3 separate regions of the Homo sapiens genome follow, and regions 2 and 3 are each linked to region 1. The links come from fine-mapping of genetic effects on gene expression. A gene starts in region 1. Each other region holds a variant in brackets. All regions are shown on one strand. Distances are from middle to middle.

Region 1 (10,397 bases):
TGATTGGTTGACTACAATTTGAAGGAATTCCATGCTGGCTGAGATGCCAGAGCTTCCCTGAAACAATGTAAAGGAGGGAATCCAAAGGCTTAGGGAATTAGGAAGGTTGAACTGAATACTCGATGTGTGACCTGCACAGCCACCTGCCAACTACATTCCACAAGATGACCCAGAGGTATTTCCTTCACGACAGCAATGAGAAATATATTAATGAAGGAAGTACTGCATCCTTGAACATCTCTGTGGTTTCTCCTCTTTCTAGAAAAGTTATGACTCTAGTACAGGATGATGCCATCGAAAAGGGGTCAAACGGCAGCACTTAACTGCCAAAGGGAAGGTAAGTACCTCTACCGTAAAGGTCGGGAGGGGCATACTAGTAATCAGAATGTTTCGATTGGCAGAGATCTTTGACAGTGGATAGTTGATCATGATGTCTCTTGAAAGTAAATATGTGGGCAACCTGTGGGTGTAGTGCCTGATCTATGTAACAGCAAAAACTCTGGTAGCTGAAAACCTGACTTGAATTCCCACAGAGAGGAACTGAAGCCCCTTACCTAGCTTTTAGACATAAGTAAATTTATAGACACAGAGCCTTTTGACTGAAAGGTAAGCCAGGTGCCCTTGAGGAAGGACCCTGCACCATTGCCACATGCACACACCATAAATCCTCCTCTAAGACTTCTCCAAAGGGACCAAAGTTGACAACTGACAAACCCCCACATTTTCTCTCTGACCCATGGGTGATGGCTTTTATTGTTGGAAGGACTAAGCAGAAGCTCCTAGAACTTTCATTTCTACCAAGAGAATAAATCAGAAGCAATATTGCATCCCTGAGGGGATTGCAAAAATCCATGCTGCCATCAAAGACTTGAAAGAAGTGGCGATAGTTATCACATCTCCACTGAACTCATCAGTTGGGCTGTGCAAAAGTTGCATGGGTCTTGAAGAATGACTGAAGACTACTATGAACTTAATGAGGTGGTGGCTAAAATTCCAGCTGCTGTCCTAGATGTAGTATCTTTCCTGGAGCAAATTGATATGTCTCCCAGCATTTGCTTCGTAGCTACTGACCTGCCCTTTTCTCCTCACTGATTTGCAAGGATTGCCAGCAACGGTTTGCATTTACCTGTCAGGGCTAACAGTATACTTTCAGTTTTGCCTCAGGCTATGTCAATTCTCCTGCTCTCTATCACATTTATTCTGCAGAGATGTTGATTGTCTTGACGTTCCACAAAACATCACATTGGATTACCTCATGGATGACAGTATGATGAATGGATCTGATGTTCATGAAACACCATATACTTTAGAGGCCTTGGTAAGATATAAGGTGGGAGATAGGCCCCACAAAAATTCAGGGACCTGCCACCTCAGTATGGTTTCTGGGGGCTCAATTGTCACTCCTCCAAGGCAAAAGGAAAGTTGCTGGTCCTTGGATGATCTAAATGGGAAAAGAGGGAGAATGTATGTTCAGCCTTTTTGTATTTAGGAGGGAACATATGCCACATTTAAAAATGCTTTTTGAATTCATCTATAGAGTTATCTCTAAGGCTGCCAGTTTCAAGTGGTGTTGAGCAAGTTCTGAGAAGTCTCTGCAGCAAGTTCAGGCTGTGTACAAGTCACTGTATCACTTGAGCCTTATTATCTAGAAGGTCCAGTGATAAAGTATTTATGGCAAACAGGAATGTTGTATGGAGTCTTTAGAAAGCACCAGAAGGAAAATCACAGCACAAAACTCTGGGGTTTTAGTGCACATCTATGCCTTATTCTGGATATGGCTGTTTGCCTTTTGAAAAATAGCATCTCCCTTGCTACTAGGCTGTGGTAGAGATTGAATGCCTAACCATGGTATGCTGGGTGACTATGTAATCTGAACTTCTCATCATGAATTGGGTGTTGTATGACCCTCCTAGACATAAGGCCATGTGTGCGCAGCAGCAATCTACCATTAAATGGAAATGGTATCCAAGAGACTGGGATTGGGCAGGTCCAGATGGTGCAAGCAAGTTGCATGGGCAAGTGGCTTAGATTCCTTTGACTCTGAAGGTACGTTGCCTCTTCCACTCATATGGTTTATGGCCTCTTGAAGATACTCCAGTTGAATGAGGAAGAAATAACAAGACTGGTTTGAAGATTTTTCTGTATTACACACAGATATTACTCAGTTTCACTCATGGGTGATCCTGAAGGACACTGGTGAAGAAAAATTCTCCCAGTCGATAGAACTTTGAGCAGCAGATTTTGTTGTATGCTATGTCTAGACTAAGAGAGGGCTGGGAGTACACATGGACACTGATTCGTGGGCAGTTGCTAGTGGTTTGGTTGATGGTTAGGGACTTGAAAGAAATAGGATCAGAAGATTGATGACAAGGACATCTTGGGAAGAGGTGAATGAATGGACATCTTATAACGGTTACCAAGTGTGAAGATATTTGTGACCCATGTGAATGATGACCAAAGTGCATTCAGTGGAGGGGAAGTTCTTAGTGATTAGGTGGGCAATTGATGTACTCAGTGGGTGTCTGTCAGTCTCTTTTCTTGGCCACTCTACTGCTTACTCAATGAGCCCATAAACAGAGTGGCCATGGTGGCAGAAACAGAGGGTATTCATTGCCTCAACAATGTGGACTTCCTCTTACCACGGCTGGCCTAGCTAACACTACTACTACTGCTGAGAGCCTAATATGTCAACAATAGAGGCCAACATGGATCCCCTAATGTGGCCCCATTCACCTGGGGAACTAGTCAGCCACCTGGTGGCAGGTTGATTCCATCGGACCTTTTCCATCTTGGGGTGGGGGGTGGGGGTCAGAGATTTGTCCTCACTGAAATAGACACATTCTGGACACGGATATGCCTTCCCTGCCATAATGCTTCTGCCAGTAGCACCATCTATGGACTCATGGGGCACCTTATCCACCATCATGGAATTTCCCATAGTGATGTTTCTGATCAATGATTCCCACAGCATTGCTTCTTTCACAGCAATGAAGTGCAGCAGTGGTCTCAAGGCCATAGAATTAACTGGTTTTACCACATGTCCCATCACCTGGAAGCAACTGGACAAATTTTGAAGGATGTAACAGTTTAGTGAAGACTTAATTATAGTGTCAGTTGGGAGTCACCACACTGAAATGATGGAGTCCATCTTAAAGTGTACTTACTGTGTGTGCTTTGAAACAGAACATACATATACGGTACTATCCACCCCACAGCCAGGACATATAGGTCTCGGAATCAAGAGATGGAAGTGGCTCATGTCACTATTAAACCCAATAATTCACTCACAGAAGTTTTGTTTCCCCTCCTGGCTACCTTGAGCTCTGCTTGTTTGGAAGTCTTAGTCCCCAAAGAGGAACTGCTCACTACGGTACACTGCAATGGCTCAATCAGGAAGAGAAACCCAATCAGTGAGGCACTCTGCCAGATCTTACAGGGGAGAAAAGCATGACTGATGTGTCTGCTGAATCCATGAGGACGATTTCTTGCAGGTGCTCACTTCTGCAAAATACACTGTGGGAAGTATTGGAAGAGTTTTGATTCTGTCAAGTTTATACAACAAGAGAAAAAACAGCCATGTTTGCTGATTTTTATTTATTTGCTCACCTATGTGGAAAGAAAAGAGAGGGCCTTACAGTCTTTTGGGGTAGACAAATCTTTTCCAGGCCTTCAAGACACTTGAAGATGCAGTTAGTAAGAAAAACTTTCTTACTATCTTATCTGATGAGTTACAGTATAGGACTAAAATAGAGCAGGGATTCTGGGTCATACAAAATTAATGTTAGGTCAGTTGCACACTCCTTGAGCCATCATTGGTGACTCTGCTAAGGTTTTCTCTTAATTTGCTCTGTGTATATCCTGGTTAAAGGGCCGACCTGTGTCTTTAGAGCATTTCCTATATTTGGCCCTATTCTAGTGTTGTAGTTAAGTACATGGATCTGGAGTCTGATTGCTGGGAGCTGAATCCTAGCTTGGTCAACTTGTAGCTTTGTGATCTTTGGTGTCAATTAACTTCTCTGTGCCTGTTATCTGTAAAATGAGGATAATAGTTATATCTACTTCAGAATATTGTTTGGAGAATTTATTAAGATGACATATGTACAGTCCTTACAACAGTGATTGGCCCATGGTCAACAATGACTAAGGTTTAGCAATTCTTATTATAACTTGGCAGTGTGTGCTGTGAGTCTGCCTGCCAGGAATATAAACCATTTGGGATCCCTGCTCTCTTTCTCTAGCAAACCTGCAGAACACCTGCTAAATAGCTCATATAGACTGAATTATGTCTCCCCTCCCACCTCCAAATTCATATGTTGAAGTGCTAACTCCCTAATGTGACTGTATTTGGAAATAGGGTCTTCAGGCAGGTAATTAAATGAGGACATAAGGGTGGGGTGATAACCCCATAGGACTAGTGACCTTGTTAGAAGAGGAAGAGACCAGGGCTCACTCTTTCTCCATCACACACAGAGAGAAGGCCACGTGAGGACACAGTGAGAAGGTGGCCGTCTGTAAGCCAGGAAGAGAGGCCTCACCAGTAACCAACCCTAGCACTTTAATCTTGGACTTCCTGCCTCCAAAACTCTGAGAAAGTAAGGTCTGTTATTTAAGCCACCAGACTAGAGTATTTTATTATGGCAGCCCTGGGAGACTAATAGCATTATGAAATTGCATAATTTAAATATTCAGGGTGGATGTGGGGGCTCACGCCTGAAAGTTCAGCACTTTGGGAGGCTGAGGTGGGAGGATCGATTGAGCCCAGGAGTTTGAGACCAGCCTGAGCAACATAGCCTGTCTCTACTAAAAACAAAAAATTATCCGGGGTGGCAGTGTGCTTGTATTCCCAGCTACTTGGGAGACTGACCTGGGAGGATCACCTGAGCCCAGGGGAGGTCGAGGCTGCAGTGAGCCCTGATGGAGCCACTGTACTCCAGCCTGGGTGACAGATATAGACCTTGTCTCAAGAAAAAAACAAAAAACAAAACAAAAAACCTGTTGCCTTTAGAGATAAAGATGGAACTGTGGAGTCAGTATCCTCAAATTCACTCACTGATGTGAAAAGCTGTTTGGGATTTACTTCTGAATGTATTTCTCAGGTGTACAGTGTTTAGAAAATGGAATCAGGGATTATGGAAACCAAGAAAATCAGGGCCAAATGATTGCTTTTTGGAATCTTTTATCAAAGCTTTTCTAAGATCTTCATTAAATAACTAGCAAATCTGAGAGAGCACGAGATCTCAGCCCACACTGAATTTCCTAATCTCTGGGAATATAAAGTCAGATTTGGTTTCTATGTATTTTTACTCTGAAATGTAGAGAAAATGTAAAAACTTAGGCAGTAATCGTGCAAATTAAGAGTCATTCTTTAATGAATGCCTTGCGTTTGCAAACAGGCTTTACGCCTGGCAAGCTCGGACCACGTCCATCGTGGGGCGCCAGGAGATTGCTGGGCCACTGTCCCCAATTCAGGGCTGGGTCCCGGCGTCCCCGCGTTCTCCGAGTCCCTGGTCCCCGCCCCAGCCGGCGCCGGGACCCGCCCGACTCCCCGCCCCTCCCCCGCCCACGCCCCAGCCGCAGGGGGCAGGGCGGGAGGCGGGCGCCCGGCGCGTCCAGTCCCCGGGACCCTTTTAAAGCGTGGCGCGCCAGGGCCGGGCATGCCGAGCCCCGTGGCGGAGACAGCGGTGCGCTCAGCTCCCGGGAGCGGCCCGAGCAGCCGAGCGCCCAGGGCTGCCCTTCCCGGGCCGGCGGGCTCCCCGGGCTCCCCGCCGCCGCCCCGTGCGCCCCGGGAGGGCCCGGCATGCTGCGCCAGCTGCTGCTCGCCGCGCTCTGCCTGGCGGGTCCCCCAGCGCCCGCGCGCGCCTGCCAGCTGCCCTCCGAGTGGAGGCCCCTGAGCGAGGGCTGCCGCGCCGAGCTGGCCGAGACCATCGTGTACGCCAGGGTGCTGGCGCTGCACCCCGAGGCGCCCGGCCTCTACAACCACCTGCCCTGGCAGTACCACGCCGGCCAGGGGGGCCTCTTCTACTCGGCCGAGGTCGAGATGCTGTGCGACCAGGCGTGGGGCAGCATGCTGGAGGTGCCCGCCGGCTCCAGGCTCAACCTCACCGGCCTGGGCTACTTCTCGTGCCACTCCCACACCGTGGTCCAGGACTACTCCTATTTCTTCTTCCTCAGGTGAGCCCGGCGGCGCCGCCGCCACCTCTCTCTCTCTCTGCGCCACCTCCCGAGGTCGCCGTTACCTAGAGCCAGGCCGGTAACTCCCCGGGCAGCCTGTCGGTGTCAAGTGAGAATGCCCCTGGGGCGCCTACCCCTTGCCTTCTTGGATCTTTCTTGCTCCGTCTGACGTCTCTACAGACATCCTGACTACCCCTGGTTAAGGCGGTTTAAAAGACAGGGAAGGTTTCTGTGCCTTGTACACAGAAGAGCATTGCAGACAGAAGCTCAAAGCGCCCTCCAACAGTCCCTTTGACTTGGGTTTTTAAACTGGCCTCAGTGGGAGTAGATTGGGACGGTGAGAAAAACAATCTTTGAAATCAGTCTGTGGCTGGCATTTTGGCTCTGCCCTTCCTAACCGTGATTCTGAGCGCATTTCTTGACACCTTCTCAAGAACTTCCATAGCCTCACCTGTGTAAAGTGAGAGACAGGGCTGGTTGAGTGAGGAACGTAACTCATGCAAAGCACCTGGTGCAGGTTAGAAGTTGACCAGCTGTCCACTCTCTCCTCTTCCTCATTTGCTCAAATGCCAAGATGTGAATGGTGTGGAATGTAGCCCGGGATTGCTTCACTGTCTCATATCAGCTGCCAGGTTCTTTGAAATAGCAAAGGTTTACTAGGGCTTGGGGTTCTGCTGCTGGTAAAATCCTGGGTAGCAATGCTTTGAGGAGTGGAGAGGTGAACCAGGCCAGGAGGTCCTCTTTGATTATAGACCACTGGAATCTTCTGAAGTTCCATGAACTTCAGAACTTGGCCTGTGGTCAAGATGGAATGCATCTGCCTAAGAATTCAGTCAATTCTCATTGACTACTGAATTCTTCTGAAATTTGAATAGAGAGTGCCAGGTAGAACTCTAAATTCTTTGGTTAGCTTCAGTTGGAATTTGGAGAGTGATATAAAACAACTGAGAAAAACATCAAAATGGAATCTAACCTATCTATCAAGATAGTAAATTAATCCACTGTTGGGGTGATCGGTTGTAGTTCGTTTTCCCAGTCTGGGAAGTAGCACTGAGGATATTTGGAATGAGGCTGACGTGGGTCTGCAGATTCACTTTTAGCTCGCATTTCTCTGAGAAAGAAAACAGTTCTACAAAGTGGTGTTTGTAAGTGCATGGCAACACATGTTTTCCATATTGAAGCCAGAATATCTAAGTTTAAAAAACACGTCTTGCTTTGTGTTGGCTTGAGTGGTTCAGCTAGATTAAGTTTTTATATATATGTATGTATTTCCAGAGAAGTGTAGTTTCTAAATAAAGCCAGTGAGACTGAGAGAGTGCCCTTCTCGATACAGAGAAACTTAGGGTTTCATGTTTTTAATTAGGAAAGATACTGAGAAACCATCTATAAAACTATTCAAAACCAGAACTTTGTTCTCCAAAGGAAAAAGAGCCCAAGTGTTTGAGCAGGCTTTTTAAAGAAATTTTTATCATGAAATACAGTTTGTCCAATAGTTCCGTGGTGCTCAGCCAATTCTCATCTTTTTTGCTCTACCATGTTTACAAAAGTTAGGGCAGAAATACAAAGACAGTAGTCTGACATTTTCATTTCACAGGGCTGTCTTGCCTTGGAGTGTGTTAACAACTACACACAAATCATTCCTTCTCTGTTATTCTGGGACCCACTGAGATGAAACTGGACCTGTGGTCACTGTCAGGGGTGAGGGTGGCAACGGAGACTTGCTGGTGAGCCCTACGTGTTTTCTGTAGACTGGAGTGTAACTTTCATCTCTTTCTTTTTGTGACATTTTAAAGAATCATTCTAATTGATTAATGCTAGGCCTTTAAATGTGTTCACTAACATGCATACTGCATTTACTTTGTACCAAGTGCTTCATTTACTTAGGTTTTTGATGCAATGCTTATGACATCACCAGAAAAGTAGGTACTATTTTTTACTTATATATGTTCTTTTTTTGAGATGGCGTCTCACTCTTGTCACCCAGGCTGGAGTGCAATGGTGCAATCTCTGCTCACTGCATCCTCCGCCTCCTAGGTTCAAGTGATTCTCCTGCCTCAGCCTTCTGAGTAACTGGGATTACAGGTGTGTGCCACCGTGCCCAGCTAATTTTTGTATTTTTAGTAGAGACAGGGTTTCACTGTGTTGGCCAGGCTGGTCTCGAACTCCTGACCTTAGGTGATCCACCTGCCTTGGCCTCCCAAAGTGCTGGGGTTACAGGTGTGAGCCACCGCACCTAGCCAGTACTATATTCTTTTTGCAGATTAGAATACTGAAGCTTAGAGGAGTTAAGACATTTGTTTCATGTCATACAGAAGATAAATAGCAAAGACAGAACTTAAACATAGGTGATGACAGCTGGCCTTTTTTTCACCAGGAAATAAGGAACACTCTTTGAGAAGGAAGACCCCTTGGGGGACTTGGAAGACAACACAAATAGACAAACAGGCACCATACACATAGTTTTCTCCATACTTTGCTCAAACTCATCTTTTTGAAAACCTTAAGGATAGACTGATGTAGCGTGAGACAAAGAAATAATTAGAAGTAGTAACTCCTCTAATGAGAGCCATGCCAGACATTGATGTGAAATTGGCAAGCCCGTTGCAGTTGTCTGTGACTCTGGATTGGAGCTGGTACACCCTTGACTGTCTAGCCTACATGTCTGCCTTTTTTTCCTCCATTAGGATGGATGAAAATTATAACCTCTTGCCTCACGGAGTCAATTTCCAAGATGCCATCTTCCCAGACACTCAAGAGAACAGAAGGATGTTTTCTAGCCTTTTCCAGTTTTCAAACTGTTCGCAAGGGCAGCAGCTGGCGACTTTCTCCAGTGACTGGGAAATCCAGGAAGACAGTAGGGTAAGAATTGGCTAAATCCTGTGCCACAGCAAAACAATAGTATAGCTACACCTTGTGTGAATTTTGTGACCAAAGGAATCAAGAATACTCTTCCAAAAGCCCAGATCAGAGAGTATTAGCGTATGCCCTCTCTCTCTCCTGCTATCCCTCCTTACCTCCCAGCTGTTAAAAAAGACCATTCATAAACTTTGGATCCCTGAAGCTTTACTGTTGGATAAGGAGTTCTTCCCAAAGTATGAGAACAAGATGAGATGAAGATTGGCATGCTGAGCCTCAGTTTCCTCTTCTACAGAACAGGGACAATAGTAGCATCTATATCAGGCTTGTCCAACCTGCAGCCCAGGACAGTTTGAATGTGGCCCAACACAAATTTGTAAACTTTCTTAGAACATTACGAGATTTTTCTGCAATTTTTTTTTGCTTATCAGCTATCGTTAGTGTTAGTGTATTTTATGTGTGGCCCAAGACAATTCTTCTTCCAATGGGGCCCAAAAGATTGGACACCCCTGATCTATGTCAGAGGGCTAATGCAATATGATTTAAATATGTAAAAACTATAATTATGTAAATCCGTTAGCGTAATGCTTAAAAGAGTAAGTGCTCAATACATGTGAGCCGTTACGACTGTTCCTGACTGTGTATGATTGTCATGGACAGCACAGGGCCCTAAGAAATTGTCTTAGAGGAAAGGAAAAGTGCTGAGGGAAATGAAATGAAATTGCTATCATAGCTACCACTTCTGTGATTCTTAACTATAGTTGGTAAGACATAGAGGTGCAGGATGGCCAAGGTGGTTGCAAAATGTAAGGGTCGGGATCGTAAGGGTTGGGAATGAAAATATAAAAGAGTCTTCCGATCTGGGCCAAATGCCAGAGTTGGAGGAACATTTTGATGATCATCACTCTTCCAAAGCAATGGGCTTTGCCACAACCAAGTTGGGATGATAGTGGGGGCCAGGCCAGTCTAGGCCTCTGGGGCTGTGACCCATCTCTTCCGGTCCCCGATTGAAGACATTTTTAGGGCAATGTGACACACTGCTGGAGAGAGAGTTCTGATGTGGGTATCACATGGAATAAGGACTTTTTTTTTTTTTTTCCATTAACGAACCCATTTGCACATGTTAAGAGACTCCCTTCTTTCCACCCATCAAGAAGGGTTTGAGGGAAGTGTCTTTCTCTTGTCTGGTGGGATGGCCTAGGGTAGCTGCCTTGTTCTTCCGAATCCCCTTATTGTCTTTTTTATTTTGTTTTCCTTCCAACTTTTATTTTAGGTTCAGGGGGTACGTGTGTAGGTTTATGACGTGGGTAAATTGCGTGCCACTGGGGTTTGGTATACCAATCGTTTCGCACCCAGGTAGTGAGCACAGT
Region 2 (10,306 bases), 98 kb after region 1:
TAAGGACTGAGGTGCCCAAGGAGGCTTTGACTAAACAAGCAGAGGCATCCAAGGTTGGAAGATGTCTTTCAGATGCTGTAACTCACAGGACCATGAGTGTCCAAGGATACCAGGAAGATGGAGCCTTGCATCTAGACCAGAGCCCCATCCACTGTGATGTGGATTTTCTGGGATCCTGAAAATAAAAGTAGAACATCTTCCTTCCCACTACACCTGGACACCTTCTCTGCACTCACCATGGACAGTGGTCAGCATTAAGAAATCACAGTTCTGGCCAGGCGCCGTGGTCCACACCTGTAAACCCAAGCACTTTGGGAGGCCAAGGCGGATGGACCACGAGGTCAGGAGTTTGAAACCAGCCTGGCCAACACAGTGAAACCCTGTCTCTGCTAAAAATACAAAAAGTAGCCGGGCATGGTGGCATGCACTTGTAGTTCCAGCTACTTGGGAGGCTGAGGCAGGAGAATTGCTTGAACCTGGGAGCCGAGATCACACCTCTGCACTCCAGCATAGGCAACAGAGGGAAACTCTGTCTCAAAAAAAAAAAAAAAGAAAAATCACAGTTCTTAGCCAAGAATCTGTGATTTCAGCACCCTTCTACCCCTTGGTAGTTCTAGAAAAAGGATTTAGAGTTGAAATCAGTATTCCATGACCTAGTGTTTCCCAGGCTTCTTTGTATCACAGACTAGATAAAATGTTTGCAAAACTCCCTGGGAGAAACACAGGAGACCGCTCGTAACTGAGCAGCCTTGACACTCACTCTTGTAGTCTATTCTTGCTGCATGTTGGAGATCTCCACCAGAGACCGATGAGATCTGGGGTAAAACAAAGTTAGAGAGGTTTAATGCAGGACCAATGTGCACAGCTGATACTAAGTGTTACATCACAGAGGAAGCCATAATATGCAGCATTTCTGAAACTTTTTTAACCAGAACCACCCTTTTGGTCCCCACGTAAACATCTAATGAGACGAGTGTCCTGGAGACTCCATTTTGGGAAACCTTTGTAGTAGATTTATCTGAAGACGTGGCTTTATGATCTCTGTAGTAGAACTTAGCTAATAAACTCCCCTTTCCTCTGATGGCAGGCAATTCACCCAAGACAGCTCAATGTTTCCTGATTTTAATCATGGGCCATCAGCAGGACTTAACCCCTGGCCATTTAAGATCTTGTCCCCCTGCTTCCCACATCCAGCTGCTACTGCGCTCCAACTCTCAGCAGGGCTGGCCCTGGCCCCAGCTTCTGAAATGTGATCCCTTCTCCTGCACTTACCCAGGTTTTCCATCATCTAGCATCTCCCCTCTAGAATGGATTTTTCCTCATCTGCGTCACATCCTGCAATTCTTAAGGGATTTGGTATGGGGATGTACAAAATAAGCTAGTCAACAGGGGGCGGGCAGGTGGGGGCAGGGAGAAAAGGAAAGTAAGGAAAAGGCACCAAGTTCAGGGCTCCTTAAATCCAGCTCCCAGATCTTACCAGAACAAATCGTCAAAACTAATCTTCTTTTTTCTTTTTCTTTGAGACAGAGTCTTGCTCTGTCACCCAGGCTGGAGTGCAGTGGTGCGATCTCAGCTCACTGCCAACTCCTCCTCTCGGGTCAAGCGATTCTCCTGCCTCAGCCTCCCGCGTAGCTGGGAGTATAGGTGTGCACCACCACACCTGGCTAATTTTTCTATTTTTAGTAGAGATGGGGTTTTGCCATGTTGGCCAGGCTGGTCTCAAACTCCTGACCTCAAGTGATCCTCCCACCTCAGCCTCCCAAAGTGCTGGGATTACAGGCGTGAGCCACTGCACCCGGCAAAACTAACTTTATTCCTGGGAAATGGGGCTTCACAGGGAAGATGGTGAATCCAGCTCCAGCATTAAAAGGTAGCTCCAGCTTCTTCACCGGTTTTTCATTTTCGAGTCATTGAAAATGACTTGCTTCTATTTCAACCTGCATCCCTTCATCCATTTATTAAGTGCTTACTGCATGCTAAGTGCTGGATGCAAGAATGAAAAGATGGAGCCCTTGTGTTCAAGGGACTCAGTCTGGGAGAGAGTCAGGCTAGCCAACAGTTAGAGCCCCATGCGATAAACTTGACAATGGAACCAGGAAAAGATGACAGGGCTCTTCCTTATAGGAAGACTTCAGGAGGAACCAGGAAGGCATCACAGAGGAGGTGACTCTTGAACCAAGACTTGGAGAAGAAGTAGAATGTCATCGTTTGGTTAAGGTGTGAGCAGAGATTTAGTGGAAGGAATTAGATGCAAAAAATCACAGACACTCAAGAGGACCTAGGATGCTGAGGGAGGAGGAGTTCCAGCAGCAAAGGTCAAGCTCGGGCGAACGACAATCACAAAAGCTTTGTGTGTCCTTCACCCTACACCAGGTGCTACATCAGATGCTTTACCCTTATCATCTGATTTCATCTTCAGAGCAGTTCTAGGGAAGAGGCTTTATTAGGCCCATTGTATACATGAGGAGACTGAGCCAAGACAGGTTCATTGACTTAAGCAAGACCCCACTGTCCGATGGTGGGGCTGAGTGGGCTCCCTGACCTGTGGACTCTAACAGGTATCTGGGTACGTGGAGTGTGGAATCGTTTAAGCCAGAATTCAGTCCCAGAGTTACCTGAGTCCAAAACCCCTTCCTACCCACACTGCCCGGCTACCTCCTCCCCCGGCAGCATCAGGAAGCGGACGCAGGAGAGGCTGCTGTGGCCCTGCCCAGCTAGGCCGGGTGCTGCCTCATGGAAAGGAAACTCCTGCCCCAGCCTCTTCCCTGACTCCATCTCCGCCTTCCTCTTCATTTGCCTCCCCTCCCGCCACAGCCTGGGCATGAGCGTTCCCTTTGTTTGGGCTCCTGGCACCAGGGAAGCAGCTCTTTTGACTTTGGGTGGAGCAGAGAACGAGCTGCCAAGCCACATGCAGTCATCTCAGGTTGTCCCTCCAGACAGTCCTCAGAAGAACTTCCCTGCTGTCACTTCCCAGCTTTGGGAGTTTTTTCAGCAGCTCTGGGCATCCTCCAGTGTGGTCCTGTCGAGTCATTCAGGAAACCGTTCTGCGTGGACGTGGCTCTCTGCCCACCTCCTCATAGATCTCTATCTCTAAAGGCTTTTAAAGAATGGGAGAACAAAGCTGCATTTCCAACCTGTTTATGGAAAACGCCAAAAGGCACTACGGAGGACGTGGGTAAAGGCCCATGGGCTTCCCATCAAGCTCCCCAGAGTCCCTGAATCATGTGGATAATGAAGGAATCTTGGCCTCTGCCCTCTACGGGGCCAGAAAACACAGCGCCATGTAAACTTTTCAGAATTAACCGGCCAACTGCGGGACTAGAGCAATCCCCTGCAGACCCTTATCCACACTGACAGTTGATGTTCCCAAGCAGGGCACAGGGGCTTGCTCTAGGCTCATCTGTCCAATGTCAAGGGATGCATTTTAGAAACAGTCAGTCGTGCTGGGAAGAGCTGGTTTGTTAATTTCCACCTGGAGGTTTGAAATTGGCTGCAGTACATTGAGATGGAGTCAATAGGACCTTTGACAAGGATCGTGGAGACCTTGAACCATGACCTGGCAGCCAAAGCCATCATCACAAAACAATGTCTGAAAGTGGTGGGAAAGGGGTGAGATGTGGACAGTGAGGTTCTTGGGCGTCTCTGGCACCAGGTGTTTTTTTCAAACCCTTTGCCCTTCATCCATTCTTTGCCTGTAGACCAGCTGCCCTCCAAACCCATCCTATTCCCACCTGCGTTTGCCTTGAGCCCCTCTTGAGGTTAAGATTCAGCATCTTTTCCTTGTAAAGGGCCAGATTTTAGGTTTTGTGGAAGCAGCCGTTGCAGCTACTCACCTCTGCCATTGCAGCACAACAGCTGCCACAAACAAAACATAAACTGATGAGTATAGCTGTGGTCTAATAAAACTTTATTCACAAAAACAGGCAGGGGGCCAGATGTGGCCCATAGGCCATCGTTTCCTGATCACTGCTCTGGGTTTTCTTTTTTCTTCCTTCTCATTTTTGAATCCCGAGAACAGGAACAAAGTGTTAAAAAAGCAAGCTATTTGTCTGTGTTGTTGCTTTTGGACTGTTCTTCCTTTATATTTTTACGTTTCAGAAAGTACACTTTGTCTTGTCTTTATA[C/G]GTGGTTATTTAAATTAAAAGCAGCTGTGAAAGGCAAGAATCCTCTCGGTGACTCTTTGGCATGTCTGGTGCCATGAGATATTTTTTTAAAAAAACATACTGTCTTTTTGTTTAGCTTGATACAAACTTGCTATATTCCAGAATAACTGGGGGGGACTTTCTGCACCATACAGTGCCAGGCACACAATAAATGCTTCTTGCCAGAATGAATGAACATATGGAAGCCAAAACGCTTTGGAAATGAGAGGTGATTCTAGATGGTATCATGGATATACTTCCTTAACTGCTCAAGATGTTGATGGTGAAACTTTCTCACACCTGAGCTTCCCGGAGAAACCAGGAAACTTATAGGAAGACTTCAGGTGGAGGCTCCGGGTAAAGAGCTCTCCACGGATTTGTCCCGTCACTGGAGACAGGTGACCCAAAAAGGCCACATTAAGGCCACTCAATCTCATGGATGCATGAGCACCCCATCTTGCCATCCCTCCCCATTGGCCTGTGGTCCTAAGGATAGAGGAGGATTAATAACTAGTGAGCCTGAGCCAGTCTTTTTTTTTTTTTTTTTTTTTTTAAGACTGGCTTTTGCTCTGTAACTTAGGCTGGAGTGTAGTGGTGCAATCATGGCTCACAGCAGCCTCCACCTCCCAGGCTCAAGTGATCCTCTAGCTTCAGCCTCCCAAGTAGCTGGGACCACAGATGTGCACCACTATGCCGGGCTATTTTTTATTTTTATTTTTTAGAGATGGGGTCTCCCTGTGTTTCCCAGGCTGGTCTCAAACTCCTAGGCTCACGCAGTCCTCCCACCTCAGCCTCGCAAAGTGCTGGGATTACAGGCGAGAGCCACCATGCCCGGCCTAGTGAGCCAGTCTTGCCTAGTGAGTTAGTCCTCGTGGCCAAGTGGAACCACCAGATGCTCCCTCCTCCAGCTCCCATGAAATACTCACGGGAAGTGTACAGACCGATGACTGGAAAAGAATCATGATAAAATGAAAAGGGGAAAAAATTAGAACAGAAAACTGAGTAACAGCAGGACTCCAGTTTTCTTTGAAATAGTTATCTATTTATACCCGTAGGAACAATACTAGGAAGAAATGTTACAATGTCCACAGTGATTATCTCTGTACCATAGAATCATTGATGATTTTGATTTTCCTTTTGTTGGTCCCATATTTTTAAAAAATGTTTTTTCTACAATCAGTGTGCTTTGATGGTTTTAAAAAGTGTTATTTTAGACAGATAAGGAAGTATGGATATCCCAGCCTAACTTTTGTCTTTTCGAAAATAAAAGAGCAGGCTCCCAGGGCAATCTTCCCATCTGCCCTTAGGCAGGCATCCTATTGGCCACATGGAAACTTCCAGAGAAAAGCTCTGGGCAGGCAAATGCCAGAGGTACCCAAGCACCTGGGAGGCGCTGAGTGCTGCAGGCCTGAGCGGGGCCTGCCTATGAGGAGTCTGTTGCTTTGGGGCTGCCCTGTAGGACATTCTCTTTGGTTCTTCTTCAAAGAAAATATGGCAGTACCTGTTTCAGCTTGGCCTGGCCTTTCCCTGCTCTTCTCAGTTTACCAAAAAATACCACAAAGCAAATTGAGCAAATAGCGTATCTGGACCTTTTTTTCTTTTTAAAGCAGTTTTAAAAGGAGATGGATTTCATTTGGAAAGCATTCCAAAGAAAGCATTTCTTAAAGAAACACACATTTTGGAAAGCACAGCTCTCCTCTAGAAATTCTTGCTTTCTTAAACACAGGATTTTCTTTTGAGGTGATAGCTGGGATGCCAGAGGGCTCCATCGGCTCCATCAGCAGTGGCTTGGTTATTTTATGGCGTTAGCCTCAATTCACATGACACAGGCTCCCCCTACTCAGAGGCATGGCCCACTTTGCTGCAGAGATACAGACCTGCCTGCTAAGCAGTCCTGGGTCATGGCTGTGCTATGTTGGTTGTCTTGGATACGTTACTAGAGTCCTTTGATGTCTTTTGCTCCTACTGAAACCCTACCCATATTAGAGGCCACGAGGACCAAAGAATGACATGTTCACCAAGGAACTCTCATCCCATCCACGCTTTTCACATTCACCTTTGCTTGGGAATTTATCATTCCCATCTCAATGATCCTCCCACTCCGGATACACACACAGATGCACTTCAAGGCGTCCCTCTGTTCCATCTTGGTTTTTACAGCCTGGGTCAAGGTCTTCCTTTTGTCTGGGCTCTAAGTCTTGCTGGAGGTGAAATTCATCCTCTTGCTAGCCTGGAGAACAGCTGTGTCCATGGTCGAGGGCTAACTGTGAAGAGTGTTGTGTCTTAGAAAGAACTCTTAACACGTGATCACTCAAGTCCCAGCATCCTCCTCTATTTTTCACGATTTTTAAACGCAGCTTCTGAACACCGCCATCGAGCCTGCCTTCAACTCTTCTTTGATGTTATGTTCCAGCCACTATTGGGTTCTGTTCTTTGAAAATTCGAGCAAGCAGTCTTCCAAAACCCCAATCCTCTTGTTGTCATGGACTTTGGACTTTTTTGTCTTGTTCTTGGTTGAAGAATCTACCATAACTTGTAGAAAACTCATGACTTAATGAGGGAGTGTCATTATACAGTGCTCAGCCTGGTACTTGGCCATATTAAAGCCTAAGTTCCATAGCTAATATCTATCCACAAGACAATAGAAATACTGTCAGTTCTCCCGGGAATTTCTCATGCCCACCTTCTCATCTTTTTGAGGGGGTCTCATTTTGGCCAGAAGAGGGCAGTGTTGCACATATGGTCTCCCCTGTAACAGCAGCTTCCCCGGGAGCCCAGAGTTTCTCATTAAATGACAGGTATTATTGGAACATTCCACTTGGCTCCTTTTTCTTAACTGTAGGCCTAAAAAGGCCAGGGCAGCAAGGATGCAAAAACCATTGTGAACCAGGCCTTCAGGAGCTTGTGACTTGTGAATGTCAAGGCCCTTGAGTCACATTCTCCTAGTGCCACCAGGTACTTGGCGTGTGGTGTGAATAGCTACGGCGTGCCATGGAGACTGGGGAGGGGGACACATTACATACACAGGGAGACCCGGTGGAAAGCATCGTGAAAGGGGACCACAGAGGGCTTCCAAGATGGCCAGGCGGAGATGGGGAGAACAGTGCTCCAGGCGGGAGGAAGAGCCTCTGGGATGAGAAAGCGCTGATGTGTTGGAGGAAGAGCTGGGTGGGACCCAGTGTGCCTTGGGTATAAAATGTGGGAACAGAAGGAAGAACACTAAGACTGGAGATGTTGGCCGGGTCCAATCACAAAAGTTAAAGGCTTTAGGAGATTTGACTCTATCCTATAATCACGGCTAACAGTTAGTGAACGTTTACTGTGCACGAGGGCATGGTTCTAAACATTTTTCAAGTAAAACTCATGAAATCCTCCCAACAACCATGATCATCCCACTGAGAGTGGCCAGGTTCCCTGAGACGTAGACTTTGGAATAAGAGGTGCAGGTGGGCCAGGTGCAGTGACTTACGCCTGTACTCCCAGCACTTTGGGAGGCCGAGGCGGGCAGATCACGAGGTCAGGAAATCGAGACCATCCTGGCCAATATGGTGAAACCCCATCTCTACAAAAAATACCAAAAAATGAGCCGGGCTTGGTGGCTCGTGCCTGTAGTCCCAGCTACTACTCAGGAGGCTGAGGCAGGAGAATCGCTTGAACCCGTGAGGTGGAGGATTGCAGTGAGCCAAGATCACGCCACTGCACTCCAGCCTGGCGACACAGCAAGACTCCATCTCAAAAAAAGAAAAGAAAAGAAAAAATAATGTAAGAGGTATAGGTGGTGTTTTCAAGAATGCTCCTGGGATTAATACCTTGGGTAGAAAAGAACAAGAACAGGCGGAGGCAGACATCAGCCTGTGATCCAGTCTCAACAAAGGCTGTAGCCTACCCCAGGACACCCAGCAATGGGGACCGCCCTTCAGAGATCTTCCAAGTTGGGATGAGGGGCCTTGGTCTTCATACCCTGGTGTCAGCCAGTCCTTGGATACAGGTGCTCCAAAGAAGGGGGCGTGACCTTGGGCAGTTCTCTTAGGTCAGGGTCAGTTTCCGGAGAGAGACTCAGCTTAGGGCTATCGGCTATCGGTCTGCAGCACTCCAAGAAGCTGGGGAAATCAATCCTTTAGTACTGAAGTGGGTTCTGGCTAATACAGACCAGAGTCCACTACTCTGAGCCTAGGAAGCTTGCCCAAGGTCTCAGGTCACTCGTCAGTGGAAGAGGCAGGACTGGAAACCAAAGCAGCCTGGCCTCAGGGTCTGAGCTCTTCACCCATCACCATCATATTGCAGTGTAGATAGTGGGGCTCGATGGAGTTTGTTTTTTTTTTTTTTTTTTTGAGATGGAGTGTCTCTTTGTCACCCAGGCTGGAGTGCAGTGGCGCGATCTCGGCTCACTGCAAGCTCCGCCTCCCAGGTTCACGCCATTCTCCTGCCTCAGCCTCCCGAGTAGCTGGGACTACAGGCACCCGCCACGACGCCCGGCTTTTTTTTTTTTTTTTTTTTTTGTATTTTTAGTAGAAATGGGGTTTCACCCTGTTAGCCAGGATGGTCTCGATCTCCTGACCTTGTGATCCGCCCACCTCAGCCTCCTAAAGTGCTGGGATTACAGGCGTGAGCCACCACACCCAGCCCGGCTCAATGATGGAGATTTCTAAGCAGAGGAAAGTTGAGGCTCAAGTCTTTCTTTGGGAATGTAGCTTCTGATGAGGTAAAATGGGAGAAAGGAGAAAGATTGGAGAATACCTCTTTTTATATATATGCTCACACACACATATAAAGGAAATGCCAGCCTTATTACTGTATTAATCCGTTCTCACACTGCTAATAAAGACATACCTGAGACTGGGTAACTTATAAAGGAAAGGTTTAATGGACTCACAATTCCACATGCCTGGGGAGGTCTCACAATCATGGTGGAGGTGAATAGGCTCAAAGTCATGTCTGACATGATGGCAGGCAATAGAGTGTTCAGGGGAACTGCCCTTTCTAAAACCATCCGATCTCTTGAGACTTATTCACTATTAGAAGAACAGCACAGGAAAAACCCACCTTCATGATTTCATTACTTCCCACTGGGTCCCTCCCATGACACATGGAGATTATAAGAGCTAGAATTCAAGATGAGATTTGGGTGGGGACACAGCCAAACCTATGAAATACAAAATTCAAAAAGTACAAAAGTGAAAATGAATCTTCTTCTTCCTGTCTTCTCTGCTCCCCGGATATGGCCACCCTTACCCGTTTCTTGCATATGCTCCCAGAGATAGTGTATGCATATTTAAACGGACACAGATGGGTACCGTATTTCGCACTCTTGGTATCACACTATACACACTGTTCTGCACAGCTTTTCAATATGAACACCACTTAGACATTGCTACACCACCATTCACACGGAGCTGTCTTGTTCCTTTAAAAACGGCAAACCTTTGCATTGTGTAGATTTACTATAATTTATGGAACCAGACCTCTCTTGATGGGTATTTTTTGTTCCCAATCTTTTAATATAATAATGCCATAATGTTTGCACATGTGGCAGCTTGCACATATGAGAGTATTTATCTGAGATAGTCCCAGAATTACTAGATCAAAGGGTATATGCAGTTATTTTGACAGAGCCAGATTGGTCTTTATAGATGTCAACACTCTACTGACAGTATGATAGCACCTGTTTTCCCAAATCCTGACTCTGAAATTTTGCCAATCTAATATGTGAAAAATAGTAATTCACCATGGCTTTCATTTGTTTTTTTTATGTTATTATGAGTGGGGTTAAGCATCTTTTCATGCGTTTAAGAGATACTGGCGTTTTCTTTCCTGTGAACTATCCACCTTCTGTGTGCTGGCCAGCCCAGCTAAAGGGAGCAAAGAGAGTCTGTTTTTGCTGAAGGGAACCCCTCCCTTCAGTTGGACAGGCCAGCATTGATCAGAGCCTTCGCGAATGTAAGTGGCTCAGCCTTTGTTAATTAGGCCACCTGACTCCCCCCATTCCCGGAACTGTCCACCTTCTGTGTGCATTTCTGGTTTTGGTCTTCTACCAAAGCGGGGCTCTTTCCTTTTTGCTACGCATGACAAATATTCAGAATATCATTTGAAAACGACATCTTCCAAGGAAGCCAAGTATGGAAAGCAAAACGGGGGCTCTGTATTTGAGGCCAGGGCAGGATTCA
Region 3 (10,397 bases), 150 kb after region 1:
GGCTGAGGCAGGAGGATCACTTGAGCCCAGGAGTTCAAGGCTGCAGTGAGCTATGATTGTGCCACTGCACTCAGCCTGGGGGATAGAGTGAGACCCTGTTTGTCTTTATTTTTATTATTATTATTTTTTGAGACAGAGTCTCACTCTGTCCCCCAGGCTGGAGTGCAGCGGCATAATCTTTGTTCACTGCAACTTCTGCCTCCCGGTTTCAAGTGATTCTCGTGCTTCAGCCTCCCAAGTAGCTAGGATTACAGGCAAGTGCCACCATGCCTAGCTTCCTATCTCTCTTTAAAAAAAAAAAAAAGGCTGCATAGTATTCCATGGTGTAAATGTGCATGAAGCTGGAAACCATCATTCTCAGCAAACTATCGCAAGGACAAAAAACCAAACACCGCATGTTCTCACTCATAGCTGGGAATTGAACAATGAGAACACTTGGACACAGGAAGGGGAACATCACACACTGGGGCCTGTTGTGGGGTTGGGGGATGGGGGAGGGACAGCATTAGGAGATATACCTAATGTAAATGACGAGTTAACGGGTGCAGCACACCAACATGGCACATGTATACATATGTAACAAACCTGCACATTGTGCACATGTACCCTAGAACTTAAAGTATAATAAAATATATATATATATAAAAGAAATAAACATGAAAATACATACATATATATATTAAAAAAAAAAAAAAAGGCCAGGCACAGTGGCTCACACCTATAATCCCAGCACTTTGGGAGGCCAAGACGGGTAGATCACGAGGTCAGGAGATCAAGACCATCCTGGCTAACATGGTGAAACCCCGTCTCTACTAAAAATACAAAAAAAAACCATAGCCAGGCATGGTAGCGGGCACCTGTAGTCCCAGCTACTCGGGAGGGTGAGGCAGGAGAATGGCATGAATCCGGGAGTCGGAGCTTGCAGTGAGCTGAGATAGCGCCACTGCACTCCAGCCTGGGTGAAAGAGCGAGACTCCGTCAAAAAAAAAAGTTGTGGCCAGGTGCGGTGGCTCATGCCTGTAATTATAGCACTTTGGGAGGCCGATGTAGGCAGATCACCTGAGGTCAGGAGTTCAAGACCAACATGGTGCACCTCTGTCTCTACTAAAAATACAAGATTAGCCTGGTGTGGTGGCGGGTGCCTGTGATCCCAGCTACTTGGGAGGCTGAGGCAAAAGAATTGCTTGAACCTGGGAGGTGGAGGTTGCAGTGAACCGAGATGGTGCCATTGCACTCCAGCCAGGGCAACAAGAGCAAAACTCCATCTCAAAAAAAGACTTCTACATGCAGACGACTTCACTGGGTCAGCAGCTGGGTGAGGTGTTGGGTGCTCTCCTGCTAGAAGAACTGAGAAACCACGCAGGTCCATTATAGACTCCCCTGGGGAGCCACACACTCTGATCTCACAGATGTTCCTAATTTAGATTTTCCTTTTCTTAGGCAATACTTGTGCACATGTTTGAGATGAGTAAGAAGAGCATCTCCTCTTCTTCTGTAGGATGTAGTAGACATATGTTGCTCAAAATTCTTTCCCTTAGAAAACCACCCACACCCTGGTCTATTACAATGCTGACTATGTGATCTGGGGATTGGTTCCAGGTCCCACCCCCTCCCCACCACAGACACCAAAATTCAAGGATACTCAAGTCTCTGATGTAAGATGACATAGTATTTGCATATAACCTACACACATACTCCTGTATGCCTTAAATCATCTCTAGATTACTTACAATACCTAATACAATGCCTACACATCTCTTCATTCACATGGATTCAATGTAGTACTCAGTGTGTACAAATTCAAGTTTTGCTTTTTGGAACTTTGTGGAATTCCTTCCCCCCCAAATATTTTAATTTGTTTTTTTTTGAGATGGAGTTTCGCTCTTGTTGCCCAAGCTAGAGTGCAATGGTGTGATAACGGCTCACTGCAACCTCCGCCTCCTGGGTTCATGCCATTCTTCTGCCTCAGCCTCCCAAGTAGCTGGGATTACAGGCGCACACCACCATGCCTGGCTAAGCTTTTTGTATTTTTAGCAGAAATGGGGTTTCACCATGTTAGCCAGGCTGGTCTCGAACTCCTGACCTCAGGTGATCCGCCCGCCTTGGCCTCCCAAAGTGCTGAGATTACAGGCGTGAGCCACCGCACCCAGCTCTCCCCCAAATATGTTCAATCAGCAGTTGGTTGAATTCAGGGATGCGGAATCCATGGATATGGGAGATCTACTGTACCCAATTTCCTTGGGCACAGTGGTTCAGGAGTAGACATGTGACTCAAGCCAGAAAAACCAGTCTTCCCTGTTTTTGTAGGAGAGATTTTCTCTCTTCTACTGGGGTCATAAGCCCTTAGAGCCTTGTGGCCTGAGCCACTAGAGGCCTTCTTGCCGTATATTTGGAAAGACCTGGATGGCGAAAAGAAGAACTAAGAGATGAAGAGAGATCCCTGGATACATCTAAATACAGCCTAAATACATGGACTTTTCAGTGATGTAAACCAATAAATTTATTTTCTCCACTTTGAGTTTGAGTAGGGTTTTTGTCACATGTAACAAAATAATATTATTCTGATTAACATATCTATTACAGTCACCAGATTTATCAAATAAAAATATAGAATGCCTAGTTAAATTTAAATAATGTTTTAGTATAAGTATATCCCACATATTGCATGGGATATGCTAAAAAATTTCATTGATTATTTTCAAATCATATTTAACTTGGCACCCTGTATTAGTTATCTGACAACCCTATCTGGGATACATAATTTCTGTCAACAGTGTTTTAAAATTCCCTGCTCAACTATTCACAATAGCAACAAAGACATGGAATCAACCTAGGTGTCCATCAATGGTAGACTGGATAGAGGAAGTGTGGTATATATACACCATGGAATACTACGCAGCCATAAGAAAGAATGAAATCATGCCCTTTGCGGCAACATGGATGCAGCTGAAGGCCATTATCCTAAACAAATTAACACACGAACAGAAAACCAAACACTGCATGTTCTCACTTTTAAGTAGGAGCTAAATCTTGGGTACATGTGGACATAAAGATGGGAACAGCAGATACTAGGGACTTCAAAAGGAGAGAGGGAGGTCAGGGCTGAAAAATCTCCTACCGGGTACAGTGTTTGCCACCTGGGTGACGGGATCAACAGAACCTCAGTATCACACAATTTACCCTTGTAACAAACCTACACATGTACCCCCTTGAATGTAAAATAAAAATAACAATTTAAAAAAGAAAGAAATCAGGAGTGGCTAGTTTTTCAACATATTCTCAATTCTATCATTCTATATTTTAAAGTTAATTAAAATAATTTTTTTTTTTTTTTTTTGAGATGGAGTCACGCTCTGTCACCCAGGCTAGAGTGCAGTGGTGCGATCTCGGCTCACTGCAAGCTCCGCCTCCCAGGTTCACACCATTCTCCGGCCTCAGCCTCCCGAGTAACTGGTACTACAGGCGCCCACCACCACGCCCGGCTAATTTTTTTTTTGTATTTTTAGTAGAGACGGGGTTTCACCGTGTTAGCCAGGATGGTCTCGATCTCCTGACCTCGTGACCCACCCGCCTTGGCCTCCCAAAGTGTTGGGATTACAGGCGTGAGCCACCGCGCCCGGCCAGATAAATTTTGTTTTATAATTTAAAATAAAATTCCCTGCTTAGAAGACAGCAATCAGCAGGTGGATTTTCCCTTAAAGAACATGGAGAAAAAACAAAGACAGTTTCTGCAGAGCCATAGACAGAAACATCCTAATTAAATCTTTCTTCTCCAGGTCATTCCCGCTTTGAATAAGCCAGATGAGGAAGGTGGGCGCTCTAGGGTCAGGCTATTTAGTCCTCGTCAGATGTATAAATACTTCAGTGACCAGTGGTATCCATTTTTGCTGTACATTAGAATCACCTGCAGAAGCTTAGATATTCCAATGTCCAGGGCGCACCCAGACAGATACAATCAGAACCAGGGGACCACACAGGCGATTCCAGTGTGCAGCCAAGGCTGATACCACTGAGCTAAGCCCTTGAGAAGACTCAGCCAAATTGGAGGAGTTAAAACAAGAAATGAGAAGGGTCCTCCCCTCACCACCTCTCCTCCCTCCCGAACTGGGAGCAGATGGGAAGTAGCGCACAGGTAGGCTGGCTGCTGGGCCACCTTGCTAACCCTGCCACAGGGCTGTGGGCCTTAGCTTCAGGTTTGCCTTCACATAGCCATGTAGCTGGCAGGTGTTTGGGCCACAGAGAAGCAGACAAGGAGGCTCCCTGAGCTCATGGTTGGTGCCAGAATAAACACAGCATCTGGCAGGTTGAATGTGAGTTTCATGCCTGAGCTCAGCTCAGCACAGGGTTCCAGAGCAAAGATGAATTCCCACCAGGAAGCATGGGGGGAAGGAGGGAGGGAGGGATGGGCGAGGCACGGTGGGGAGAATGTGTGCTAGATGGCTTTCTGTGATAACCATGAACAGCTTCTCTTTCTGCTCTCACCAGCCCGCCGCTCAGGCCTGAGAGATCTGCCAGAACACATCCCTCCTGGAGCCAGGTCCTGATTCACGGCTTTTCATTACTGCGTTTCATTCTCAGAGGAATAGACCCTCCTCAGGGCCTCAAAATCACCAACAAGTCTCGAGAGGTTGGCAGGAAGTGCCTCCTCTCCCACGCCTCTCCTTGCCCGCACAGCCTCTGTTCCAGCTCGCCCTCCCCCTTGCTCACCACCATCATGTCCCCGGTGTGCAGGTCAGCACTAGCTAACTATCTCTTGGAGGAATTACTGAGCCAGTGAATGGAACAGGGGCAGCGGCTCTTAACCAGCAGCCCCTGTCAGTCCCAGATCCCGGATGAAGACACCGGAT[C/A]CCCCCAAACCCTGCGTGTTCTTAATTGGGTCCCCAAAGCCCCCGGCGTTCTGCTAGGCATCCTGAATGCACACAATCAGCCGGCTGAAAGGAAACATCTGCAAGTCTTTCTGATTAAATCGACTTGGAACTCTGCCCCTTGAAGCGGTTATAAAGACTGCTAGTGGCCAGGCATGGCCAAACCTCAAGACTGGTCTGTCCTGGTGTGGGGTGGGCTTCACTGATGCTCAGGCAAGGTCCAGGACAGGCTGGCAGAATCCTGTCCCCGGTGGTGCTAAGTGGGTTCCAGCCATTTCCCAGAAGCCACTGTGGCTCTTCAATGCTAGGATGGGAGGCTCAGCTCAGAACCAAGACCTTTTCAAGTTTAAGGCCTTGAGTGGTCAGCAGGGGAGCAGAGCTTAGACAAAGGGAACAGGAGCTGCAGCTGGGACAGCCAGCACCCACACACCTGGGCTTTGGAAAGAAGTGCCCAGAGGTGAGCGGCATTGGGGGGGATCAGCTGTCTTCATCCATGATCTGGGACTGGCAGAGGCCGGCCGGGTAAGAGCCGCTGCCACCATTCCATCCCCTGACTCAGTAATTCATCCAAAAAATAGTTACCCAATGCTGACCTGTACGTGGGGGACACGATGATGGTGGGCAAAATTGTCACGGTCCCTGCTGCCGTGCCCCTCCCATTCCCACTCCACTATTTAGATTTGTAGCCAAACAGCCAGGGTGAGAAGGGGACAAGAGAACACCTGTTCTTCCTGAACAGGGAAATTAACCTGAAATGATTCCCTAGCACATTCGCTCCACGTGGGAATCTGTGGGAGGACGCTTTTAAGAGCATCACAAGCTAATTCACAGCTATTTTAGGAAACTTTCAAAACCATCTCATTTCCCCTAAGAAAGACTGGTTCACACCCCTTTGTCTCTGGGGTGTGGGGGTGTCTTGCTCTGATCTAACCAAGGTTAATGTCTACAGTCTTCCCCCCTGCAGTGGAGGGGATCACTACTAAAGGGAGGCCCTGCCAGAGAATAGACTCATCTTTCTCTCTCTTTTTTTTTTTTTTTTTGAGGCAGAGTCTTGCTCTGTTGCCCAGGCTGGAGTGCAGCAGCGCGGTCTGGCTCACTGCAACCTCCATCTCCTGGGTTCAAGTGATCCTCCTGCCTCAGCCTCCCAAGTAGCTGGGATTATAGATGCCCGCCACCACACCCAGCTAATTTTTGTATTTTCAGTAGAAACGGGGTTTCGCCATGTTGGCCAGGCTGGTCTCGAACTCCTGACCTCAAGTGATCTGCCCACCTCAGCCTCCCAAAGGGCTGGGATTACAGGTGTGAGCCACTGCGCCCGCCTGTCTTTTTAAGACAATAGAAGTTAGTAGGGGCCAGGAGATCACCTTGGAATCACAGAAATTAGATTTCCTCAAACCAGATGATGGGGAGAAGCCATGGTGGCCTGAAAGAAATGGCCACCCGGTCTTACCTTACAGGTGCAGATTCTGCTGGAACCAGCCCTACTGGGCACTCCTGAGCCGCTTGTCCCTGCTACAGCTGTGACACTGGTAGCTCCAGTCACAGAGGGACTTCCGTTCCATGAGGAGCCTCAGTGGGCGTGCTAGGTGCCAACAGCCCATGCCGAGGGGCTGCTTCCCTGGCTTCACCTGCTTCCAGCCCTCATCTTCAGCCAGAAACTCAGCTGCGCCTCTACCCTAAGACTGGTCTCCCGTTGGAGTGTCCTCCTGCCAGCGGGGGGCGCTGTGGGACCCACGAGAACCGCTCCTCCTTGGCTTGACTGCTCCGTCCGTCCCCAGAGAGGATGAGACTGAAAGAAACTTAACCCAAAGGTGCCATGACATTAGGCTGGAAGTGACACTGAGGTGCTGCTATCTGGCTGGGCAGCTAATCTGATCATTAGCTACTCCCTGTAGCTCACCAAAGCCAGCCTCTGCTTAGATCTCACACCCGTTGGTTGCTGTCAGCAAAAGGAGACAGGCTCAAGGAAGACTGGACTCCCAGTTGAGAATGCACACGGGATAGGGCCTCCTTACTCAGGGCATATGGTCTTGGACTAGCAGCGTCTGCATCTCCTGGGAGCTTCTAGAAATGCAGAATGTCAGGCCCCAGCCCAGATCTGTTGAGTCATAATCTGCATTTTATCAAGATACACAGGTATTTTCCATGTAGGTTTAAGTTTAGAAGCACTGCACTAGCGGACATCCTTGCGCCTCAGTTACCCCGCAGATGGGTCTTTTACTGTGTAAGCATTTTATCTGCATCTCTTCATTTTCTCTCCTCATTTCACTTTTTGCCCTAGGAGGTCACAAGCATCAATCGTCATGCAGACTGGAGCTAGAAAAAGATTGACAATTTCACCATGCCTGCCTTAGCATATGGCTCTTAGGTTAGTATAAGGTTGGTCACCAAGTAATAGGTTTGAGTTTTCAAAACAATCACTAAGAGGTCTGGATATTCATTCCTAAGTCCTTTCCCTCCCACTAGGGGAGTGTCTTCAAGGCATCTTGGTTATGGTCTAGGGTTGTGGAGTGGTTGCCAGGGTTGCCTAATCCCTAAGTATCCCAAGTCTTATCTGAGGATTGATGAAATATATCACATACAAGCCAGACACAGTGGCATGTGCCTGTAATCCCAGCCTCTTGGGAGACAGAGGCAGGAAGATAGCTTGAGTCCAGAAGTTCAAGACGAGCCTGGGCAACATAGCAAGACCCCATCTCTAAAAAAAAAATTGAAAGAAACACAGAAATATATCACATGCATGTATTACTATTACTCAATTATTACAGAGATACAGATGCACTTTAATAATTCATTTTGAAAACTTTTTGCAGTGTCTTTTGTTAGTTCCAATCACTAAGATGCTGTGTTCCATGGAAAGGGGCCATATTCATCAAGAATTTGAGAACCATGGCTCTAGCGGTCTGAAGCTCCAAGCTCCTAAGACTGCCTAACCAAAACAAAGACACTGGTATATATTTTCCATTCATTTATGAGTTTTCAAAAAATTTAGGTCTTTATTAAGAGTTAAATATAAACATTAACTCATTGTGTTACAGAGAAATAGGGTCTTTGGAGGAACTGTTTGAACATGGGTCACAGTTACTTGTTTATGTAACACGATTTAGAGGGGTACAAAGATCCTTGGCAGGAAGGGTAGGAGGAGGAGATGGAGGAGATGGGAGAGAAGGAAGGAAGCACCTGTGAAATCCCTACCTTCAACCTTGTCAGTTTCCAATTTGCATATGCTCATGTCCCTAATGAAAAGCACCTCCAAAATAGACTTCTTTCATTTAGATATATGTATTTTTGCGTTATGACTTTTTCCATTACAACAGCACAAAACCCAAGAAGGTAGCTGGTGTGGCGATGCACAACTGTATTCTCAGTTATGAGGGAGGCTGAGATGGGAGAATCACTTGAGCCCAGGAGTTCGAGGCTACAGTGATCTATAATTGCACCACTACACTCCAGCCTGGGTGACAGAACAACCTCGTCTCTTAAAAAAAAAAAAATTTAAGTAAACTAGACTTGAAATCAGGTTTTCAAATTGCTGTATTACAAAGTCTTAAATCACGATTAAAAAAATAACAAAACTTGCCTATAATCCCAACTACTCAGGAGGCTGAGGTGGAAGAATCACTTGAACCCAGGAGGCGGAGGTTGCAGTGAGCCGAGACTGCGCCGCTGTACTCAGCCTGCGCGACAGAGTAAGAGTCTGTCTCAAAAAAACAAAGAAACAAACAAACAAAAACATAAAAATAACAAAACCCAAGATGACATGAATGTAACAAAGATAAACATTTTGTTCTACTGAACAGTTTCTTTTATCTTGGTCTTGTCCTTCTAATTTTCTTTCTTTGTGTATGTTTTATATGTTCATAAGTAGGTATAGTATATGCCTATAATTTCCAGAAATATAAATATTCATCTATTCAGAGCACAATGTTCAAAAATATTTTATCATAAGGATGCACAACAAAAACTGTTTAGATATCCCTGAACTAGATTAATACCTCTTACCATCTTTTGTCAACAAATGGGTCAGAAAAGTCCCTTCATTGCCATTATTTACAGCCAGTGTCGTGCTACCAACATTCTCTACGCCTGAGTCATCCTTGTTCATGTTCACATTCGAGCTTGTTCATTTAGCACCAGACTTGGAAAGAAACTGCAGGAAATGTGCATTTCTGGACGACTCGAACAATTTTACCTCACGCTCTTCCCTGCTCCGGGCTGGGATCCAACTCTGAAAAAACCTGAAATTCACAGATTCAAGGGAGACTTTTCTCCATGTTTCTCAGGAAGTAAACAGGGTATGGCTGACACGGCAACACCCTTTTCCAGGCAAAGAGCAAAATGCAGCAGGGGTTTGGACCTCAGTGCAGTTTTCACTGGAACTTGGGCTGTGTCTGGGTGCCAGAGAATTTTAAAGAGCAAGCAGGTACCTCAGGGATCTTGTTGTCAAACCCCTCATTATATGAGTGAGACACAGAAGGACAAAGTTGGAATGAACTATGCAAGATCACATAGCACGCTAGTGGCACATCCGGGACCACCACCCAGTCTCTCCAGTCTCCCCCTCTGTGGCTGATGTGGGGGAGGGACAGCTTGAGGAGCAGGGGGAGTTTCTGGCTTGTGATGAGACATGGCTGGACAATGTCTGGTGGTGTTAGATCCCAGACAGCGTTTCCACAGAACTCTTCCATGCACTCTAACCCAGGTGCCTGTGTGGGGTCTCTGGTGAGAGATTCATGGGGTCCCCCGTCTGGGAAAGGCTGTTTGGTACTGCCTGCCTCTGGAAAGTAGAAAGCTCACTTACAGCTTCTTCAACCTAGAAACAATCTTTGTACAGGATGGTGGTCGCAAAAGTCCAGCTCTTCTAATGGTGTCTACGGCTCCAACATATAGAAAAGGTCTGGAAGACCTGAAGTGAGGTGGGGGATGGGTGTGTGTGTTCCCCACTGCCGTATCCATCCTCAGTGCCTAGGACAGGGCCTGCCTGACACGTAGGAGGTCCTCAGATTTTTTTTTTGAGACAGAGTCTTGCTCTTTCGCCCAGGCTGGAGTGCAGTGGTGTGATTATAGCTCACTGTACCCTTGACCTCCTGGGCTCAAGAGATTCCCCTACCTCAGCCTCTGGAGTAGCTGGGACTACAGGCACCAAACACCACACCTGAATGATTTTTGTATTTTTAGTAGAGTCGGGGTTTCACCATGTTGGCCAGGCTAGTCTTGAACTCCTGGCTTCAGGTGATCTGCTCACCTCTGCCTCCCAAAGTGCCAGGATTACAGGCGAGAGCCACTGCACCTGGCCAGGTGTTTTTTTGTTTTGTTTGTTTTGCTTTGTTTTTAAGAGACAGGATCTCGTCGTGTTGCCCAGGCTGGAGTGCAGTGGTATGATCATAGCTCACTGCAGCCTCGACCTCCTGGGCTGAAGAGATTCCCCTACCTCAGATCCCTGAGTAGCTGGGACGACAGGCACACACTACCACATCTGGCTAATTTTTAAATTATTTTTTTGTAGAGATGGGGTCTTACTATGTTTGCTCA

Alleles and levels. Positions count from the first base shown, and alleles are read on the strand shown. Sizes are in standard deviations (SD) of each study's normalised expression. Not every link is listed here.
In carriers of allele C in region 2, the expression in fibroblasts of the gene that starts at base 5,655 in region 1 tends to be higher than with G alone (small effect, 0.28 SD a copy in GTEx).

The links. PIP is the estimated chance that this variant, and not a neighbour inherited with it, causes the effect.
Region 2: its variant is fine-mapped to the expression of CCDC3 in fibroblasts (GTEx, PIP above 0.99).
Region 3: its variant is fine-mapped to the expression of CCDC3 in whole blood (TOPMed, PIP 0.99).

Annotation. Positions count from the first base shown.
Region 1 is chr10:12,996,971-13,007,367 of GRCh38, reverse strand. It overlaps CCDC3 (coiled-coil domain containing 3), which reads left to right and starts at 5,655. Exons shown (of 3, transcript NM_031455.4): 1 at 5,655-6,171; 2 at 8,856-9,030. The coding sequence starts at 5,798. RefSeq lists enhancers at 5,525-6,025, 6,026-6,526.
Region 2 is chr10:12,898,858-12,909,163 of GRCh38, reverse strand. All of the region lies in intron 2 of CCDC3 (coiled-coil domain containing 3), which reads left to right. LOC105376418 (a long non-coding RNA gene) reads right to left here and starts at 1,365. Exons shown (of 3, transcript XR_001747367.3): 1 at 1,273-1,365; 2 at 761-815. The variant C/G (reference allele first, on the strand shown) is at 4,125.
Region 3 is chr10:12,843,951-12,854,347 of GRCh38, reverse strand. No RefSeq gene overlaps it. Among named protein-coding and RNA genes, the nearest start is that of MIR548Q, 120 kb to the right of the region's middle. RefSeq lists an enhancer at 4,692-5,191. The variant C/A (reference allele first, on the strand shown) is at 4,848.